Linked DNA regions of Homo sapiens: all the other regions are reported to be linked to region 1. The links are microRNA targets in miRTarBase. Many come from high-throughput screens and were not tested one by one. Region 1 holds a microRNA gene; each other region holds the end of a gene's coding sequence.
What was found. The annotated mature microRNA hsa-miR-92b-3p reads UAUUGCACUCGUCCCGGCCUCC and lies in region 1 at 1,438-1,459, opposite strand. An mRNA with a match to its seed (bases 2 to 7 or 8) in the 3' UTR can be bound and repressed. Matches are read on the target gene's strand: a 7mer-m8 pairs with bases 2 to 8, a 7mer-A1 pairs with bases 2 to 7 and ends in A, and an 8mer does both.

Region 2: miRTarBase lists CASD1 as a target of hsa-miR-92b-3p. Seed matches in the 3' UTR shown: 7mer-m8 at 1,691-1,697.
Region 3: miRTarBase lists IKZF2 as a target of hsa-miR-92b-3p. The part of its 3' UTR that is shown has no 7-base or 8-base seed match.
Region 4: miRTarBase lists PARVG as a target of hsa-miR-92b-3p. The part of its 3' UTR that is shown has no 7-base or 8-base seed match.
Region 5: miRTarBase lists STAT2 as a target of hsa-miR-92b-3p. Seed matches in the 3' UTR shown: 7mer-m8 at 3,238-3,244, 7mer-m8 at 3,246-3,252 and 7mer-m8 at 3,532-3,538.

What each region holds. Positions count from the first base shown.
Region 1 is chr1:155,193,696-155,196,695 of GRCh38, reverse strand. It overlaps MIR92B (microRNA 92b), which reads right to left and starts at 1,519; the gene lies at 1,424-1,519. THBS3 (thrombospondin 3) reads left to right here. Exons shown (of 23, transcript NM_007112.5): 22 at 570-709; 23 at 797-1,108. The coding sequence ends at 855. It overlaps THBS3-AS1 (THBS3 antisense RNA 1), which reads right to left and starts at 1,699. Exons shown (of 6, transcript NR_183238.1): 1 at 1,324-1,699. RefSeq lists an enhancer at 1-530 and a silencer at 1,687-2,016.
Region 2 is chr7:94,554,559-94,559,582 of GRCh38, forward strand. CASD1 (CAS1 domain sialic acid O acetyltransferase 1) reads left to right here. Exons shown (of 18, transcript NM_022900.5): 17 at 1-17; 18 at 934-2,461. The coding sequence ends at 1,200. LOC105375404 (a long non-coding RNA gene) reads right to left here and starts at 3,937. Exons shown (of 4, transcript XR_007060433.1): 1 at 3,864-3,937. RefSeq lists an enhancer at 1,552-1,601.
Region 3 is chr2:213,004,697-213,007,696 of GRCh38, forward strand. IKZF2 (IKAROS family zinc finger 2) reads right to left here. Exons shown (of 9, transcript NM_001387220.1): 9 at 1-3,000. The coding sequence ends at 2,664. Among named protein-coding and RNA genes, the nearest start is that of MIR4776-2, 80 kb to the left of the region's middle.
Region 4 is chr22:44,204,697-44,209,720 of GRCh38, reverse strand. PARVG (parvin gamma) reads right to left here. Exons shown (of 14, transcript NM_022141.7): 13 at 3,892-3,964; 14 at 1,252-3,404. The coding sequence ends at 3,295. Among named protein-coding and RNA genes, the nearest start is that of PARVG, 26 kb to the right of the region's middle. RefSeq lists an enhancer at 4,582-5,024.
Region 5 is chr12:56,340,770-56,345,793 of GRCh38, reverse strand. STAT2 (signal transducer and activator of transcription 2) reads left to right here. Exons shown (of 24, transcript NM_005419.4): 23 at 1,659-1,969; 24 at 2,263-4,197. The coding sequence ends at 2,405. Among named protein-coding and RNA genes, the nearest start is that of IL23A, 4.4 kb to the right of the region's middle.

The sequences.
Region 1 (3,000 bases):
AAGGCATCATCATTTACAGAAGAGAAAATCAAGGCCCTGACTTCACAGGCCTCGGTTCAACACTTTGTCCACAACTTTGCATTTCTCTCCAACAAGTAGCCCTAGTTGGTGGAGATGAACAGGAAGGGAGGGGAAATGGGTCTGCTTAGAGGCTGGACTTTCCATGGCCAAGAGCCCAGAGTCCAGGAACCTGGGTTGGTTCCCCTTTAAGGTGCCTGGGGCTGTGGGGTGCCAGGACAGGGGATAAAAGGGGGTGGACTAGAGCCTGGGAAGCGGGTGACTTCACCCCCCAGCCCATTGTGCTTATTGTCATGGCAACCCAATCCTCGCTTGGAATGCGGCTGGTGCTTTGAGATGCAAAAGGAGCTGGACAAAGAGCTAGGGGCCCCAGGCCTGAGAAAAGCACCCCCCTTCCCTCTCCTTCCTGCCTCCCTTTCCCTCCCTCCCTTCTCTCTCAGGCCTGGTGAGCTCAAGGGGGGCTGGGGAAAAGCAAGGCCCCAGGCATGGTGGCACAGTGCCCACTGGCACCCTAGCACCAATGGATACTCCTATCCTGGAATCCTGGACAGGGTGAAGCTCTATGAGGGACCCCAGCTTGTGGCGGATTCTGGGGTGATCATTGACACATCCATGCGAGGGGGGCGTCTTGGTGTATTCTGCTTCTCCCAAGAAAACATAATTTGGTCCAATCTCCAGTATCGATGCAATGGTGAGGTGGCTGATTGAGATCAACCTAATCCTTCATGCCTTGTGGGAGAGCCACATCCTCTGACCTTACTTATTTCCCCTTCTTCAGACACAGTGCCTGAGGACTTTGAGCCATTCCGGAGGCAGCTGCTCCAGGGAAGGGTGTGAGGAGGAGGCCACCAGATTCAGAATTCAGAATTTTAGACCCTTTGGCCTTGGGGTCCATCCTGGAGACCCTGAGGTCTAAGCTACAGCCCCTCAGCCAACCACAGACCCTTCTCTGGCTCCCAAAAGGAGTTCAGTCCCAGAGGGGTGGTCACCCCACCCTTCAGGGGATGAGAAGTTTTCAAGGGGTATTACTCAGGCACTAACCCCAGGAAAGATGACAGCACATTGCCATAAAGTTTTGGTTGTTTTCTAAGCCAGTGCAACTGCTTATTTTAGGGATTTTCCGGGATAGGGTGGGGAAGTGGAAGGAATCGGCGAGTAGAAGAGAAAGCCTGGGAGGGTGGAAGTTAGGGATCTAGGGGAAGTTTGGCTGATTTGGGGATGCGGGTGGGGGAGGTGCTGGATGGAGTTAAGTGAAGGATAGGGTGCCTGAGGGAGGATGCCCGAAGTCCTCCCAGACCCACTTACTCACGGTGGCAGCGGCGACACTCCAGTCTATCAAAGATCCGCCGGGATGGAGAGCCAGGAGGGCGGGGGCTGCCCCGCTAGGGGTAGCGGGGAGGCCGGGGGGCCGGGGGGGCCGGAGGCCGGGACGAGTGCAATATTGGCGGGGGAAAAAACAACACTGCACCGCGTCCCGTCCCTCCCGCCCGCCCGGGGCCCGGGATCCCGCTCCCCACCGCCTGAAGCCGGCCCGACCCGGGAACCCGGGGCGCGCTGGGGAGTTGGGTTCACCTTGGAGGCCAGAGAGACTTGGCGCCCGGAAGGCAAAGGGAATGGCAAGGGGGAGGGGGGAGGGAGAACGGGAGTTTGCGGAGTCCCAGAAGGCCGCTTTCCGACGCCCGGGCGTTGCGCGCGCTTGCTCTTTAAGTACTCAGACTGCGCGGCGCGGAGCCGTCGCCATGGTGACGCGTGTCCCAGCAACCGAACTGAATGGCTGTTGCTTGGCAATGCCGGGAGTTGAGGTTTGGGGCCGCCCACCTAGCTACTCGTGTTTTCTCCGGCCTGCGAGTTGGGGGGCTCCCCGCCTCCCCGGCCCGCGCTCCCGGGCGCGCTGACGTCAGATGTCCCCACCCCGCCCAGCGCCTGCCCCAGGGTCTCGCCGCACACAAAGCTGCGCCTCGGGCGCCGCGCGGCGCGCGGGCGAGAGCTGTGGTCTCTCGCCTGCTGATCTGATGCGCTCCAATCCCGTGCCTCGCCGAAGTGTTTTTAAAGTGTTCTTTCCAACCTGTGTCTTTGGGGCTGAGAACTGTTTTCTGAATACAGGCGGAACTGCTTCCGTCGGCCTAGAGCGCAGCCTGCGACTGCGGGACCCAAGTTCCACGTGCTGCCGCGGCCTGGGATAGCTTCCTCCCCTCGTGCACTGCTGCCGCACACACCTCTTGGCTGTCGCGCATTACGCACCTCACGTGTGCTTTTGCCCCCCGCTACGTGCCTACCTGTCCCCAATACCACTCTGCTCCCCAAAGGATAGTTCTGTGTCCGTAAATCCCATTCTGTCACCCCACCTACTCTCTGCCCCCCCCTTTTTTGTTTTGAGACGGAGTCTTGCTCTGTCGCCCAGGCTGGAGTGCAATGGCGCGATCTCGGCTCACTGCAACCTCCGCCTCCCGGGTTCAAGCGATTCTCCTGCCTCAGCCTCCTGAGTAGCTGGGGTTACAGCGCCCGCCACCACGCTCGGCTAATTTTTGTAGTTTTTAGTAGAGACGAGGTTTCACCATCTTGGCCAGGCTGGTCTTGAACCCCTGACCTTGTGATCCACTCGCCTCGGCCTTCCAAAGTGTTGGGATTACGGGCGTGAGCCACCGTGCCACGCCCGATCTGCCTCTTAAGTACATAACGGCCCACACAGAACGTGTCCAACTCCCCCGCCCACGTTCCAACGTCCTCTCCCACATACCTCGGTGCCCCTTCCACATACCTCAGGACCCCACCCGCTTAGCTCCATTTCCTCCAGACGCCACCACCACGCGTCCCGGAGTGCCCCCTCCTAAAGCTCCCAGCCGTCCACCATGCTGTGCGTTCCTCCCTCCCTGGCCACGGCAGTGACCCTTCTCTCCCGGGCCCTGCTTCCCTCTCGCGGGCTCTCGCTGCCTCACTTAGGCAGCGCTGCCCTTACTCCTCTCCGCCCGGTCCGAGCGGCCC
Region 2 (5,024 bases), not on the chromosome of region 1:
GAAAAATTTCATTAGAGGTTGGTACATTAATATTTTGCTTATCTTACACAGCCAGGTGTTTCATGTTTGTGTATGTACGTGTGTGTGTGTAAATATCACACATATATGTGAGTATGAAAATCGGACGTACTTTTTTCTAAACTGAAGCTATTATGGAATTACAGGGAAAAGACTTAGAACTTTCAACAATACTAAAGTATTTTGGAATGTTTTTAAGCCTTATTTTTAAATGACTAGATATAGATTACTTGCAAAATATTATTTACGTTGTCTTGAGCTTTCAAGCACAACCAAGATGCTGAGACCAAGAGAGAAAAATATTAGACCAGGTATATAAATGAAATCAAACTGAGGGGATTTTGATTTTTTGTTCATCTCCATAATTAAATATATTACTGGAATTCAGTTTATTGATGCATACCATAATAAAATTTACCCTTATTATGATTGGAAATTGTGGGAGAAAGTATAAACTCATTACATTTTGTGTAAGATACATAATATGAAATTATCTACAAAATCAGTTTGAACAGTAGGTTTTAAAATGTATTCTGAGTAGTCTAAGCTTTATTATTTGAAATAGAATGTTTTAAAACAATTTATATTGTAATAACAACATATATTTTAGAGTTTTTAGAGTATAGGATTTATTAAATTGTCTCTTAAAATAGGGAAAATAAATTCCTCTTTGAGTTCTTGAATAATTGTTCTATTATTTTCTTTGGTCTCATTTATAAGAGAGATTGTATTAGCAGTTGGAGTTCTAAGGAGTAGACTGCAGTGGACTTTTCAGGGCCAGTAGTGAGACAGAATAAAATGGTTTTAGGAAAGCCTTCTAATGTTATTATGCAACCAAATTGTTTAAATTAGGGAAAACTGTAATTTATTCATGGACCCTCTATAAATATCTGACTTAAATATTTTTTCTCCTAGCTATTTATTTGCCAGTATCACATATGGCTGGCAGCGGACACAAGGGGTATCTTGGTACTGATACCTGGAAACCCTATGCTCAACATCATTGTCAGCACTTTCATATTTGTTTGTGTGGCACATGAAATTTCTCAGATCACTAATGATCTTGCACAGATTATTATTCCTAAAGATAACTCATCTCTCTTGAAAAGGTTGGCATGTATAGCTGCATTTTTTTGTGGACTCCTCATCTTATCATCCATTCAAGATAAATCAAAACATTAGGTTCCAAAAATTCTAAAAAACCTAAACTCTTCAGGCTACCTTTGTGTGTCTCTAGAAGAGAAAAGCATCTATCTGGAGATATAAATGTGTATGTAAATATAAACGTTTGTGGCAAGAGGACAGTTCTGTGACATCTGTTGAACATATGTGGTTGTATATATTGGAAATGTACATATCCAATATGAAATACTAAAACAAACAAACAAACAAAAAACCAGAATGCATTGTATAGGATTGCATGTGAAGTCTTTTCTACTGAATCTATATTTCCATTTGTAAGTGATTTTAAGTTAACATATGAAGGCAGGGAAATGATTACCTTTCCAGTAAAAAGTATAGATAATTTAATTAACTTAGTGACACCACCAAGTGTTTTGATATAACTAAATTTGTGGTAATAAGACTGTCTGCACCTGTATTCATTGTGGAACTTCCTCTTTCATTGGAAACTTTCTTACTCAAGAATGACGGCAGTATTGTTTTCTTATATGTGCAATGAAGTGGAATGATAAACAGTATGCCTTTAATTTATATGTGTTCTTGTTCTGATGTTGTTTCCTGAAATGATTTTTCTTCCTAACTGTGGTTTTCGGGTATGCAAGCCTAAATCTTTGTACACTTTGTCTCACAGAATAGTTCTGAGGCTCCATGACAGGGTTTTGTCATTGTTGATGTTATTGTTGCTTCGTTTTATAAAAAAGCCAAAATTTTTTTTCCAATCCAAACGTTCACCTGTTTCCTTTCCTCAAGCTATACCAGTGTAATACCAGTTACCCTGTGGATCCATTTAATATGTTATCCCCACTAATTAATTTTCGTATATTATTTCCAATATTTGGAAAGCTCTTTATAGCCATTTGGTATTTCCTATTACCCACCTCCTATTTTAAATATTTATCAGTCTAAACTTGTGCAGTGTAGTAAACATGCAAGTTGTTACGATTGAGCTGTATTACCATAAGTAGAATTTTAAGTAAACTGGTGAATTTGGGCAATAAATGTTTTTGCTTTTTGTTTGATTTTTTTTTACAAGCTAACTGTTAGAGGTATACATTTATTTATCTGTTGTACAGATTTGATTATGATTTTAATGTTTGAAAGATTGCACTTGTTTGCTTTTACTATATGTGGGGTAAAATATATTTTCTGTTCACAGTATATGAAAATATGGAGTAATTTAAACAGTAAATAAACATTCTGTGGATGCTTATTTTTGTATTGGCAAAGTATCAATTAAACTATATGTGTTCTTTTTCAAAAATGCTGGATCCATTCATGATTGGTTCAAATATCTAATTATTTCCTCAACTTAAATTTGCTTTTTAAATTGCTTAATATGTAGGGGTAGGTTACCAAATGATAGTTGGATAAGGAATCATTTAGTTATCAGAGCTTCAGAGGGTCATCTGCTTTCCACCAAGGAAGTTTAAGCATTATGGTTCATTAGTGATTTTGCTTGAAGATTTTAAAAATGTACTTATTATTTATTTAGCACTGGATTTATGTGCTACTGATATACCTCCATTAATAGAGGAATATTTCTTGGACAGAGATGTGTGTTCTTTCCTTTTCTCTCTTCTTTTGCCCTTACTTAATCTTTTGACATTTCCCAGATAGACAATTGTAATGATTCATTGCTCTGCCTCCTAGACTGCAGCCTTATAAGTAGAGAATAGTATAGTTATAAATCAAAAACTTCCAAGTACTGTGATCACATTATTCTTGTTCATGTAGCTTGCCAATGAGTAGAGTGCATTTTAATTTAGCTTGTAAGTTTTATCACCTGAAAAAGATTCTTCTTGATGAAACAATTGAAAAAGAAAGATGACCAGTCTCCCTGTGTATTTTGGAAGCACTTATGTCTTCAGTAGGGATGCCGCAGTGAATATATGCTTTTCTCTCCTATTTGAACTGAAGCCTAAAACTTACCTGGTGAGCCCTGTTTCTTCATCACTTGTTCTTATTTAATATAAAGCACTATTTTTTACATATAATTATATAATAATCTGTATAATTTAAAAATAATTTATTTGTAGTTAAAAATATTTTTTATATTTGATTTTCTTAATTAGTCTTAAAAGGTTATTGTGGAAGTTGCCACAATGATAGCACCTATATATACGGTAAATGTCTTAATATTTTATTTTCTGCATCGACTCAGATACTGACCATTTGCATTACTCAATCATACCATTCTTTAGAATAAGATTTTTAACAGGATGTTTAGATATGCTAAAGTTGAGATAAAACCACAGAGGTTCTCTAAATTCAGATTTTTCTGTAATAGAAATCACAGTCAGAAATCTACCATCTGGCTTTAAAAGGTACTTGCTTGACTGAATTCTACCTCAATCGTTCCTCCTTTCCTTTGCCAAAACTTCCCATTTTTGTGGGTAGCCAATAGAAGCATTAAAAATTCAGCCCATCTAAATTAATAATGTTTTACAAGGATGTGGGACCCAAGTTCATTTATTATTCTATTCTCGAATGACTTTATACTAAAACCTTAAAACGGGAATGCATCCTGGATATAGTCATTGATATCATAAACTGGATGTGTTCCATGGCTTGCATTGCAGACAATTCAGTGTTTTGTGTAATGAATTGGATGTACCACATGGGAGTCTGTTGCATAACAGGAGATTAGGTAGTATTGTACTTACAGATTTTTGGAACAGTTGAAAGAAATTCAATTCTTCACATCATTCAAGAGAAAAATTACCTTTTTAGCTTAATAGTGAAGACTGAAATAAAGATTGACAATTTTGGTTGGCAGTTCAATCCATCTTACCACTTTGAATATTTCTCTGCAAAGACATTCAAAAATGATTGCATACATTTATGACTTAATTTGTTCATTCTTGTGTTCATTCCCCAAATCATAATTGTGATTTGGGGAAACTTATTTGGCAAGGTGTATTCTGGCTCATTTTCTTATTCTAAAAATGGTTTCCAGAAAAGGAAGTGGTCGTCCAAACTATATTCCCAAAATTGTGGTGTTTGATGACTGATTTCCAGAATAGATTTCTTATTTTATTTAATTAATTAATTAATTTTTTGAGGCAGGGTCTTACTCTGTCACCTAGGCTGGAGTGCAGTGGCGTGATCTTGGCTTACTGCAACCTCCGCCTCCTGGGTTCAAGCAATTCTCCTGCCTCAGCCTCCTGAGTAGCTGGAATTACAGGTGCCTGCCACCATACCTGGCTAATTTTTGTATTTTTAGTAGAGTTGGGGTTTCACCCTGTTGGCCAAGCTGGTCTCCAATTCCTGGCCTCAAGCGATCCACCTGCCTCAGCCTCCCAAAGTGCTGGGATTACAGGCGTGAGCCACTGTGCCTGGCCTGATTTTCTGATTTTAAATCTTACAAAAATTTAATGGCACTATTTGTTCTGCCTTTCCATATTAATAGTCATAGTAGAAACAAGGAGACACAAATGGAAGCTATTTAACTGGCATTCAATGTGGTACCAGAACCTAAATATAACAATATTGGAATACCCAAATTCTGTATATATGTCTGTGTGTGTGTGTGTGTGTGTGTGTGTGTATGTGTGTGTGTGTGTGTGTATATATATATGTATATATATGGAATAATTTCTTTTACAATTACGCAGACATTTATGTTCAAAAGTAACCATTATGAACAATTTGGGGGAAATATGAAATGGAATAAAATACCCTTTGTCTTTCAGGGATTCAGCAGTAAAATTGTCCTGAGCACCTGACATTTTACATCTTAGTAAAAAAGATACTAAAATTGTTTTGCTTTTGTTTTGTTTTGTTTTGAGAGGCAGTCTCGCTCTCTTGCCCAGGCTGGAGTGCAA
Region 3 (3,000 bases), not on the chromosome of region 1:
ACTACGTCCACAAAAATTCTTTCTGACCCACAAATTTGAATTGACTTTGTCCTCAATTGTCCCTGCCACACCCTGAGCCATATCCACCTCTTTCTGTTCCTCATGAAGCTAGGAAGATACAAGTATATGCTTGTAGCAAATGCACTCTCAACTACTAACTACCTTCAATAAAACAGATTCCCAAAAAGATGAAATCAGAAAAGGAAAGTGCCTCAGCACTGTCTTCATAAGGTTTAGGGTCCACCTAAATTTAGTTTCATCCTGGGGCAGGTAGATACATGATTGTTCATATACTGAAAAAAAAATAAGTAGGAAGAAAATTCATAGATAATGCCAGCAGAAATTCGCACACAGCCAAAATTATGAACATATTGACTGACATCCAAATGTTTCCTTAAATTGCAGTAAAAGACAAAATTGTGAACCTTAAAATTATTTACCTCATCCAAAAGGAAAAAAAATGGCATCCCAATTATTATTTGGGAGTGGTTGGGTGGGGGGGGGTGAGCGAGTCTCAAAAACATGCTTTATCTTTAAATAGGTTGTATGTTCACTATGTACCAAGGCATGCAGAAAAAAAAAAATGAAATGGTTGACATTCTATATATCTCTGTTTTGGTGCATTCCCTTAGATTTAAAGGGGGCAGTTTGGACATTTTCCCAAAAATAATTATGACAGGGACTAGTAGAAGAGAGCTGAGTTCTAACCATTTTTGCCTAGTTCTAGCTGTGTTAGTGCTTAGAAGTGCTTAGCTGGTGCCTACCATTTAAATAGCAAATAGTAAGCTGGAAAATGAGTTAAGAGCAGTATTGGGGCCAAACTTGCTTATGTCCACAATTCTCTTGACTTGGTAATTCTCATACCACACTGTATTAAGATACATAATTTCAGCATCCTATTTAATGATCCTTTAGAGCAGTTATCAGTTACTGCCTAACAGAATTTCAGTATTCACAAATGGTTATCAGATAATCCAGTCACAGTCAGGTCTGTCCTCCCCAAACAGAAGCAGCAAGTTCTGCCTTCCAAGTATGTCCCCCTAAAATGACTTGAATCAATATCACTCGGTTCCTCCCCTCTAATGTGGCTGGACTGCAAAGAAAAAACAGAGCGCCCACATAAATGAAATTAAAATCTGCACATGAAATATGGCAACCTATACCATGTAAGGGGAATTCTATACTAAGGGATTGAGATTCATTTCTGACAAGGACTTACACAATTAAATGTTTTGGAAACAGAAAAATGTGCAGGACTTTCCTTTGGGGGTTCTGTCACATTCTAGACTCCAAGAAGGGTAAAAGTAAACTTTCTTATTTTTTTGTTTCTTTTATCTGTTGTCCAAGGTACAGGTTACAAAGAAGTCCCATTCCCTTTTCTTTGCAACAAGAGTAGTAAATACTACTGAAGAAATGCTAAAATAAATAGCCCTAGTTCTGTAACCTTACAGGGTTCAAGTTACCAGATTCAGGCCAAATTAGCAATTGCTCTGAGGAGATTTTGAAAGAAACAGCCGACAGGAAGACTTTTAAGACCTTCTACTCGAAGAGTAAAGGATGAATGAACTATGGACAGAACACCGGGAGGTCACATCTTGAAAAAAACTAGTGAAAAGAGAAATACCAGAAAAGGGATTTCTAAGTGGGTTTTCTCCCCCTACTGTTAGCATAATTATATTTTTCTGCTGACTGGTTAACACTGATTAAATGCTGATAAAGTGACAATCGTAAGCATACTTTTAGAAACAAATACATATACTATGCTGCCATCACATTACAACTTTAAAAGAAAACCTCTCAAACAAATTTATGAAAGTAGAAGTCCCTCCCAGAAATTATTGACTGCCTTTTATCCACTCTTAGACCATATGTTATTCTGAAAACTACATAAAAATACTATTCCTTAAAGGTGTTAAAAGTAAGGCTGCCAGGGTGTCTATAAAATGCCAGTCATCAAAACTATGGAAAAACAGTGCTTACGTTTAGAAAAATAAGATCACAGGACCTCAGATGTATTGTAGGTGGCCCTTAACTACCTGTAGTTTAAAAGTTTTGCTATATGGTACAGTGTAAAACATACTGAATTATAAATTCCATAGGGGAAGTAAACATAGAACCCACAACAACTCAGCTCCTCTTAGGAGTTATCACTGAAAATAACAATGTGTTTGTGTTCCATGATCTCTGAAGAACAAAAAATTGGTTTACAGTTTGAAACACATTCTTCTTTCAAGAATAAAGTTACTTATACCATTTTTAAACCACCAAAGTCCTACCCAGAAAACTCTGAACTTTCCTGTCTTCCATCATAATTCTGAATATCAGTGGCAAATCAGAATCTCTTAGGTGAATCTTTATGAATCAAGTGATTTTTCAAAGCATGATATGCCTTGGTAGAAATGGACTGCTCTTAAATTCCCACAAAATAAACAAGCCAGGTGATAAAGAAACAATATTCCCGCCCCTTCTCTCTTCTGTTTCTTCCTTATCGTAATTAGGCAGAGCAAATGACACTGCCTCCACAAAATAAGAATTATCAACAGTAATAATATTAAAAAAAATAAAAGGTATGTCAACATTTGAGGAAAGGTGGGATTGTAAGTGCAGTATTTCTTCATGTGCAGTTCTTTACTTCATAGGGGTCCCCTTTGGAATGAAAAGGCCTAGTGGAATGTGTGCTCCCCTCGAACAATGTGTGATGAAAACTCATAACGGTCCTGGCTTCTGTAGCCACAGATGTTGCATTCCAGTGGGTCCCGGTAGCCATGGCAACCCATGTGAATGGTGTACATGACATGGTCTAGGAAAAGGACTCGGCAGTGCTCACACTTGAAGGCCCTAATCTGTTCTCCTTCTCCATTGAAGACCTTGTAGATGTCCTTCAGAGAGCCCTTAGGAGCCTTGGTAGTATCCAAAGCTTTGACATCCTCCTTCATGTAAGCTGGGCTTTGTTTCCTCTTGGGATTTAAGGCAGGGTGTCCTTGGTAGGACTGGTGGTCA
Region 4 (5,024 bases), not on the chromosome of region 1:
TTTGGGTCGATGAAAAAGTTCTGGAGATGGATGGAGGTGATGGTTGCACAACAGTATGAATGTACTTAATGCCACTGAATTGTACACTTAAAATGGCTAAAACGGTTAATTTTGTGCTATGTATATTTTGCCACAATAAAAAATGTAAGTGGACTAAACCCTCTAATTAAAAGGCAGAGGTTTCCAGATTGTACAAAAAGACACAATTATTTGTGTCTATAAGAAACCTACTTTAAACAGACGCAGTTTAAAAATATAGAAAAACATATACCATGCTAATACTAACAGAAAGTTTGAGTGGCTATATTAATATCAGACAAAGCAGATTTCAGAGTAAGAGATATTACAAGGGATAAATGAGACAAAAGGACATTATAATCTTATATGAGGTATGAAACAAAAATTGATAGAACTGAAAGGGGAAATAGTGAAATGTACAGTTACAGTTGAAGATTTTAACACTTCTGTCTTGGTAATTGACAGAAGTAGTAGAGAGAAAATTAGCAAGGATATAGAAGATCTGAACAACATAATCAACCCACTTGACCTAATTGACATTTATGAAACATTTTGTCCAACAACAGCAGAGCACACATTCTTTTTCAAGTGCATACAGAATATTTACCAAGATAGACCATAATCCAGTACATAAAACAAGTCATAATGCATTTTAAGTGATTTAAATCATACAAAGCATGTTCTCTGACCACAACAAAACCCAATGCCAAAAGATAGCTGGAAAAAAAATCCCAAAATATTTGGAAATTATACACTTCTAAATAACCCATGAGTGAAAGAGGAAGTCACATTTGAAACTAGAAGATATTTTGAACTTCATGAAGGTGAAAACACAACATATTAGTATCTGTGGGATGCAGCTAAAGCTGTGCTTAGAAAAAAAAATCCAGCATTAAATATTTATATAAAAGAAAAATATTCTCAAATCAGTGATCTTAGCTCCCCAATATTTTTAAGATGTCAGTTTTCCCCAGTTTGATCTAAAGAACACAATTCCAGTCAAAATTTCAGCAGGCTTTTTTGCAGAAAATGACAAACTGATTCTAAATTTTATGTAGAAACCAAAAGAATTAAAAAGACCTAGAAAAACCAAAATAATTTTTGAAATGAAGAACAAAATTGGAGGACTTATTTTTGAATGTACTAAGGACATGAGTTGTTGATACAAGAAACAATGGAGATACTCTCAATAGCATTATGCTAAGTGAAAGAAATCAGACACAAAAAGCAACATACCATAGGATACAGTTTATAAGAAATTCTAGACAAGTCTAAATGATGGTGACAGAAAACAGATCAGTGGTCCCCAGGGCCAGGGGCTGGGAGAAGGGAACTGGCTGCAGACAGATGCAGAAACTTGCATGGTGATGGGAATGTCCCATGTCTGGATAACGATGGTGGTGGTTATATGACTGCATGCATTTGTCAAAACTCATCAAATTGTACACTTCAAACTGGGAAGTTATTTTTCAATAAAGCTACAGTAATTAAATAAGTCACTTTTTTTTTAATTGCTGTCAAATAGAACAAGAGTGAGGACGTGGAACAGCCAGGCAGAGCCAGCCTGCAGCGGATGGGGCCCAAGCAAGTGAGGACTCAAAGGCCCCAGGAAGTGGGGCTGGATTTCAGGCTTTTGGGATGAAGCCAGCTGAGAGAGGCTGAGCCTGTGTCCCCAGAAGCTCCAGGAGAGGATTTGAGGTGCTGGAGGGGGCATCGCAATGGAGGGGGCACCTGAGCAGGTGGAAGGAGCTGGGCTCCAGGTACCTGGTGTGGGAGGATGCACGTTTCCCAGAGGCAGCCGGGAAGTAGGGTGGGTATCCATGAAGAGGGGTGCATCTGAGTGCTCACGTGGAACACGCTTATGGGCTTGGGTTTGCCCTGTGAATTGGGAGCTGAGAAGGGCAGGCAGATGGGAGGCTAGGTGAAGGGAAGACCCCTCAAGGCCTTCTCACACCCAGACACCAGCTCCCAGGGCTGACCTGGCACTGCGTCCCTGGCTCCCATCTTGCTCCCCCGAAGGACATCTGCCTAGGCGCCCCCAGTGGGTGTCAATGATGACCTAGCCCCTAACCCCCATCTAAAGCCCCTCCCCAAGGCCTCAGCTGTCAAACTGTGAAAACCCCAGACCCAGAGGCCTCTTCAGGGTCCAGGGAGGAGCAGCAGCCTGGGGCTGTGGTTGCCCTTCTCCCCAGCCTCACCCCTCCCCACAAGTCCCACTCCTCCCCACAAGTCCCACTCCTCCCCACCAGGCCCCAGCCCTCCCCACCAGCCTCACCCCTCCCCGCCAGCCTCACCCGTCCCCACAAACCCTCCCCTCCCCGCCAGCCTCACCCGCCCACTAGCCTCACTCCTCCCCACCAGTCCCACCCCTCCCCGCCAGCCTCACCCCTCCCCGCCAGCCTCACCCCTCCCCATCAGTCCCACCCCTCCCGGCCAGCCCCAGCCCTCCCCACCAATCTCACCCCTCCCCGCCAGCCTCCTCCCCGGTTCCCATCAGCCATCAGCTCTGCCCCACTCTGGATGCCCTGGACTGACTATGTGCAATTCTCCCACACGACTCTTCTTTATGTGCAGAAAATGCCAAGTCTCACTGGAGCGAGTGGGAACCCACAGCTCCCGAGGACAGACTGGAGATGACCTGAACCCACTAATCAACCACGAAGATTGCTTCTTTGTGACTTTTGGGCAAAACTCACGAGGGCAGCTGCAGGACACAGCCCGGGTTGCTTTGACAGTCACTGAATCCACTTCTCCCGGTGGGTGGGGGCATGGCTATGGAGCCATTCGGGCTCCTGCCCTGGAGGGTGACTCTGGGGCCCATCCTCCCGAGTGAGAAGCAGGTGGGTGTGGGGAGCTGGGCTGGAAAAGGTGGGGTCTGGGGCTGTGGGCCCTGTCCCTGAGAGTCCCCAGCCCTGAGTGATGCCACCTCTCTGGGCGGTCACTAGCCTGGGCCCAGAGATGAGAGACTGATGTGACACACACTCACCCCATGGGAGGGAGGCTGCAGGTTTAAGGGCCCTCCTCAGGACCCTGTCAAGTTCCCAGAATCCCTCCCAGAAATACTTTTATTAAAATAAACTGAGCAAGGCCAGGCGGCTCAAAATGATCCACACAAGGGGGTTCAAAGATAATCCAACGATGGAGACAGGAGACAGGGTGGGAGGGAAGCGGGTCACGAATGCACAGGAAACAGCGGGACTGTGGGAGGACACCCTGCAGCCTCGGGCCCTCCAGCTGGGCTGACAGGCAGGCTCTGGGCTTTGGAGGCAGTGAGGGTCAATTCGGGGCTCCATGGGGCGTCCTGTCCCTGTGTGCCTTCTGCGTGTGCTTGCAGAACAGACCATAGAGCACCCTCAGTGTGCTCTTGGCATCCTTGTTCACGATATCTGCGGGCCAAAGGAGGGCAGGGCAGCCAGTCAGGCCTGGGTGGCAGTGACCGACTGTCCCGATGTGGTCAAGGTTTCCTGGCATTCAGGATTTCAGTGCTAATCCCAGGAGAATCCCTGGAAGCCAGGACAGCTGGTCACTCCAGGCCTGGGTCCCGCGCCTGCTGCGTGACTGCCTCCTCCTCCTGGCCAGTCCTCCTCTGAATGCTCCTGTGGTGCCCCCAACACAGCAACTCCTCAAGGTCTGGCTTCTCTGGACAACCTGTCCCCAGAGACCTTGGTCTCCCCCTCCCCAGAACCTCTTCCCCTGGGGCTGCAGTGCCCCCTCCCAAGAAACCTTGGCAAGCGCCCATTCTCCACCCCTGCCAGGCAAGAGGACTCTGCCAATGCGTGCTCATCCCCCAATGCCCTGCACCCTGTTCTGTGGCTCTCGCACAAGGCTGCCACCCAGGGCTGGCCACCGTGTGGGCATCTGCCTTGCACTCACCTTCAGGGCTGACAGGGCAGCTGAGCAGGCCCTCGTCCTTCAGCAGCTCCAGCGCCAGGGTGACGTTGTGCAGCTATGATGACAAGGCCCTATCAGATGTGGGCACAAGCAGCAGCCCCAGGCCAGGCCTTGGGTCCCAAGTGCCAAGCCCTTCCTGTTGTCTGTGATGTCCATCATGAGCCTAAACTCCCATCCAAGGTGGGCATCCCTGACCACGACCACAATCCGTGGTCATCCAGCATCTCCCTACAGCTCACTCTGTCACACAAGCAATCCATGTCTCATTCCTCAGCCACTCACAGGCCCCACTCTGAGCAGGTGCTATACCACACTGGGCACACGCTTGCGTCCAGGGGCCACTGCCCGTGAAAAAGGCAATCGCCAAGGAGGATACCCAATAGGGATCAGGGAAGGCTTCCTGGTGGAGGTGAAGCCTGGTGGTGAGTCCCGCCAGGCAGGGAGAACTACCCAGGGAAAGGAGCAAGGGCCTGGGGTGGCAGAGCACCTTTGAGAACAGCTGTTTCCCAGGGCAAAGCACAGTGAGGAAATCAAGGCTCAGAGGAGCCAAGGGGCTCACTGGAGCTCACGAGACAGAAAGCGCTCAAACCAGGTCTGTCCGCTCCAATGCTCATGCAAAGCAGGCTAGAGACTGGAGCGGTCCCCACCCAGGTGGCTGTCCTTTCCGCCACCCCTTGCCTGGGGTGCAGTCTCAGAGATGGCTCCCTTTAGGGTGGAGAGCGCCCGGGCATCAGTCAAGTCCCCCAGTGATTCAGAGCTCAGCTTAGTCCCTGCCCAGGGCCTCCCCTTGCTCCCCTGCAAAGTGGGCTCACCACAGTTCCCCTGTGCCTTGCTACAGGATATGGTGAGAGCCCAGGAGCCTGCCGGCCCTCCCACAGTAGGTCCCCTCCCTTTCCATTCTAGCTTCTCCCTTGGGCCTCGTCTACAAGCAGAGTAGGTCCCAGCCCTTTGCCTTAGGGCAGCAGCCTGGTGTGGGTGAAGAGGGATGAACTCCTGGTTCACTGTGACCTCAAACAGGTCCTCCCTTCAATGTCTTAGCCACCCGTAGATCCACTAGACGGGGTGGACATCCCAGCCCGGGGGTCAGCTGTGCTGGTCCCGTTCCCTCCCTATCT
Region 5 (5,024 bases), not on the chromosome of region 1:
TTTTTCCAGACAGGGTTTTGTTCTGTCGCCCAGGCTGGAGTGCAGTGGTGTGATCCTGGCTCACTGCAGCCTCGACCTCCTGAGCTCAAGCAATACAGGCATGCATCACCAAACTCAGCTAATTTTTTTTGTATTTTTTGTAGAGATGGGGTCTTACCATGTTGCCCAGGCTGTTCTTGAACTCCTGGACTCAAGCAATCCACCCACCTTGGCCTCCCAAAATGCAGGGATTACAGGCGTGAGCCACCACACCCCGCATATATATATATTTTTTTTTTTTTTTTTTTTTTTTTTTTTTGAGACAGGGTCTCTGTTATCCAGGCTGGAGTGCAGTGGTATAATCATGACTCACTGCAGCCTTGACCTAGGGGTTGAAGCAATGCTCCTGCCTCAGCCTCCCAAGTAGCTGAGACTACAGGCACACGCCATCACACTCAATCACACTCAGCTAATTTTTTAAATTTTTTGTAGGGATGGGGTATCACTGTGTTGCCCAGGCTGGTCTTGAACTCCTGGCCTCAAGCAGTCTCCTGCCTTGGCCTCCCAAATTGCCGGGATTGTAGGAATGAGCCATGGCACTTGGCTGGGGATAGAATTTTTTTTTTTTTTTTTTTTTTTTTTGAGACAGTCTCACTCTCATTGCCCGGGCTGGAGTGCAGTGGTGCAATTTCAGCTCACTGCAACCTCTGCCTCCCAGGCTCAAGCAATTCTCCTGCCTCAGCCTACTGAGTAGCTGGGATTACAGGCGAGCGCCACCCATGCCTGGTTAATTTTTGTTTTTTTTTTGAGACAGAGTCTCGCCCTGTTGCCCAGGCTGGAGTGCAGTGGCACGATCTCAGCTCACTGCAACCTCTGCCTCCCAGGCTCAAGCAATTCTCCTGCCTCAGCCTCCTGAGTAGCTGGGACTACAAGCGCGCACAACCACCACACCTGGCTAATTTTTGTATTTTTAGTAGAGACAGGGTTTTACCATATTGGCCAGGCTGGTCTCAAACTCCTGACCTCATGATCCGCCCACCTTGGCCTCCCAAAGTGCTGGGATTACAGGCGTGAGCCTCTGCACCCGGCCTAACTTTTGTATTTTTAGTAGAAACAGGGTTTCACCATGTTGGCCAGGCTGGTCATGAGCTCCTGGCCTCAAGTGATCTGCCCGCCTCAGCCTCCCAAAGTGCTTGGATTACAGGTGTGAGCCACCATGCCTGGCCTGAGAGTTTATTATGCGCCAGGCACTAGGCTAAATGGTTTGCATTTATTTTCTCATTTTATTGAATCTACAAAATAGTCCTGTGAAGTAAACACTGTTACTGTTTTCAGCTAAGGAACTGGATTTAGAGTAGTCAAGTTTTGTACCTAAGGTACGTGGCTAATGATACAGGTCTGTTAGATTCCGTAGCCCTGATTTTAACCACCCTACTGCCTCTCAAGAATTACTAGGTATTGTTCTCATTTATAGATGATAAATCTGAGGCTCAGAAAAGTTAGGCCACTTGCCTAAGGTCCCCCAGCCAGGATTCAAACTCCAGGAGGCCTGATTCCAAACCCATGCTCTTTAGCCCTCCGCCCTACTGCCTTCTTAGACTAGCTTCTGCTTATTCTACCATTCCTGATTTCATTTGAACCACTGAGCCCTGCCCCTTTGTCTGTCTTTGGGTATCCAGACAGGTGGATGAACTGCAACAACCGCTGGAGCTTAAGCCAGAGCCAGAGCTGGAGTCATTAGAGCTGGAACTAGGGCTGGTGCCAGAGCCAGAGCTCAGCCTGGACTTAGAGCCACTGCTGAAGGCAGGGCTGGATCTGGGGCCAGAGCTAGAGTCTGTGCTGGAGTCCACTCTGGAGCCTGTGATAGAGCCCACACTATGCATGGTATCACAAACAGTGCCAGAGCCAGACCAAGGACCTGTATCACAGCCAGTGCCAGAGCCAGATTTGCCCTGTGATCTGAGACATTTGAACACTGAGCCAATGGAAAGTAAGTGATGAGATGGAGCTATGGAAGATGGCACACATTCCCTTTCCTACCTCTTCTCCCTCTCCCATTACAGAAAAAGCTGAACTCCAAGCTCCTCATTGGAGAGAGGTCCATTCTGTGATTCCTTTTTTTAGGAATTACACATGCCTTCCCCCACCTCCCTGCTCTTTCATCCCACAAGTTCCCACTCAGGCTCTTCCCAGGCCTTTCCTGCCATCCTCCCTCCCTTTCCCTGCTGGGTTGGGAACTCCTAACTAAGATCGGGGCCTCACTTTTCTCTCTGGATTACCTAGTCTTCAGAAACTGTGTAAAGATTGAAGAAATCATGCCGAATGGTGACCCACTGTTGGCTGGCCAGAACACCGTGGATGAGGTTTACGTCTCCCGCCCCAGCCACTTCTACACTGATGGACCCTTGATGCCTTCTGACTTCTAGGAACCACATTTCCTCTGTTCTTTTCATATCTCTTGCCCTTCCTACTCCTCATAGCATGATATTGTTCTCCAAGGATGGGAATCAGGCATGTGTCCCTTCCAAGCTGTGTTAACTGTTCAAACTCAGGCCTGTGTGACTCCATTGGGGTGAGAGGTGAAAGCATAACATGGGTACAGAGGGGACAACAATGAATCAGAACAGATGCTGAGCCATAGGTCTAAATAGGATCCTGGAGGCTGCCTGCTGTGCTGGGAGGTATAGGGGTCCTGGGGGCAGGCCAGGGCAGTTGACAGGTACTTGGAGGGCTCAGGGCAGTGGCTTCTTTCCAGTATGGAAGGATTTCAACATTTTAATAGTTGGTTAGGCTAAACTGGTGCATACTGGCATTGGCCCTTGGTGGGGAGCACAGACACAGGATAGGACTCCATTTCTTTCTTCCATTCCTTCATGTCTAGGATAACTTGCTTTCTTCTTTCCTTTACTCCTGGCTCAAGCCCTGAATTTCTTCTTTTCCTGCAGGGGTTGAGAGCTTTCTGCCTTAGCCTACCATGTGAAACTCTACCCTGAAGAAAGGGATGGATAGGAAGTAGACCTCTTTTTCTTACCAGTCTCCTCCCCTACTCTGCCCCTAAGCTGGCTGTACCTGTTCCTCCCCCATAAAATGATCCTGCCAATCTAATGTGAGTGTGAAGCTTTGCACACTAGTTTATGCTACCTAGTCTCCACTTTCTCAATGCTTAGGAGACAGATCACTCCTGGAGGCTGGGGATGGTAGGATTGCTGGGGATTTTTTTTTTTTTAAACAGGGTCTCACTCTGTTGCCCAGGCTAGAGTGCAATGGTGCAATCACAGCTCACTGCAGCCTCAACCTCCTGGGTTCAAGCAATCCTCCTACCTCAGCCTCCTGGGTAGCTAGCACCATGGCATGCGCCACCATGCCCTATTTTTTTTTTTTAAAGACAGGGTCTTGCTATATTGCCCAGGCTGGTCTTGAACTGGGCTCAAGTGATCCTCACGCCTTGGCCTCCCAAAGTGCTGGGATTATAGGCATGAGCCACTGTGCTTGGCCAGGATTTTTTTTTTTTTTTTTTTGAGATGGAGTTTCTCTCTTGTTGTCCAGGCTGGAGTGCAATGGTGTGATCTCGGCTCACTGCAACCTCCGCCTTCCGGGTTCAAGTGACTCTCCTGCCTCAGCCTCCCCAGTAGCTGGGATTACAGATCTGCACCACCATGCCCAGCTAATTTTGTATTTTTAGTAGAGACGGGGTTTCTCCATGTTGGTCAGGCTGGTCTCGAACTCCTGACCTCAAGTGATCTGTCCACCTCGGCCTCCCAGAGTGCTGGGATTACAGGCGTGAGCCACTGTTCCCAGCAGGAATTTCTTTTTTATAGTATTGGATAAAGTTTGGTGTTTTTACAGAGGAGAAGCAATGGGTCTTAGCTCTTTCTCTATTATGTTATCATCCTCCCTTTTTTGTACAATATGTTGTTTACCTGAAAGGAAGGTTTCTATTCGTTGGTTGTGGACCTGGACAAAGTCCAAGTCTGTGGAACTTAAAACCTTGAAGGTCTGTCATAGGACTCTGGACAATCTCACACCTTAGCTATTCCCAGGGAACCCCAGGGGGCAACTGACATTGCTCCAAGATGTTCTCCTGATGTAGCTTGAGATATAAAGGAAAGGCCCTGCACAGGTGGCTGTTTCTTGTCTGTTATGTCAGAGGAACAGTCCTGTTCAGAAAGGGGCTCTTCTGAGCAGAAATGGCTAATAAACTTTGTGCTGATCTGGAAATGTCTCATCTCTGATCCTCTTTATTTCCCTGCTCACAAAGGCTAATGTTCTTAGGGACACCAACAAGCTGCACAGGAATGAAGTCAGAAAATTGTGGCCTCTCTTCCATCCACCCCTCTACATTCCTCTTGTCATATTTCTTCTTCCCTTCCTGTTTGGAGTAGCCCCTCCTGTCCGTTAGACTCTTCTAGGGGTGCTGGGAGCTATATATGCATTGTGGGGGGAGGGATGAGTAGTTATATAACTGTCTCATTGTCACTCAGCTGATTGTTGGCAAAGCCAAAACACAAACCTGTCTGGATTTTTCTGACTTCAAACCCACACTTTTTGATGCTGTGACTATGGAAAAAAAAGGAAAGGAAATAATCACTAGCCACTTCCCCTCATCTTTTCTTTTTTTCAAAGAATTTCAGCTACCCTTGAGTTACCAAACTTCCAAAGGGACTCCAAGGCCGGGCATGGTGGCTCATGCCTGTAATCCCAGCACTTTGGGAGGCCGAGGCAGGTGGATCACCTGAGGTCAGGAGTTCAAGACCAGCCTGACCAACATGGTGAAACCCCATCTCTACTAAAAATACAAAAATTAGCCAGGCGTGGTGGTGCGTGCCTGTAGTCCCAGCTGCTTGGGAGGCTGAGGCAGGAGAATCGCTTCAACGTGGGAGGCGGAGGTTGCAGTGAGCAGAGATCACGCCACTGCACTCCAGCCTGGGCAACAGAATGAGACTCCATCTCAAAAAAAAAAAAAAAAAAAAAAAAAAAAAGGGATTCCAATTGTCCTTTGAGAGGAAAGTCCCATTATTCTAGGATATTTATCTTCATTTCCCTGG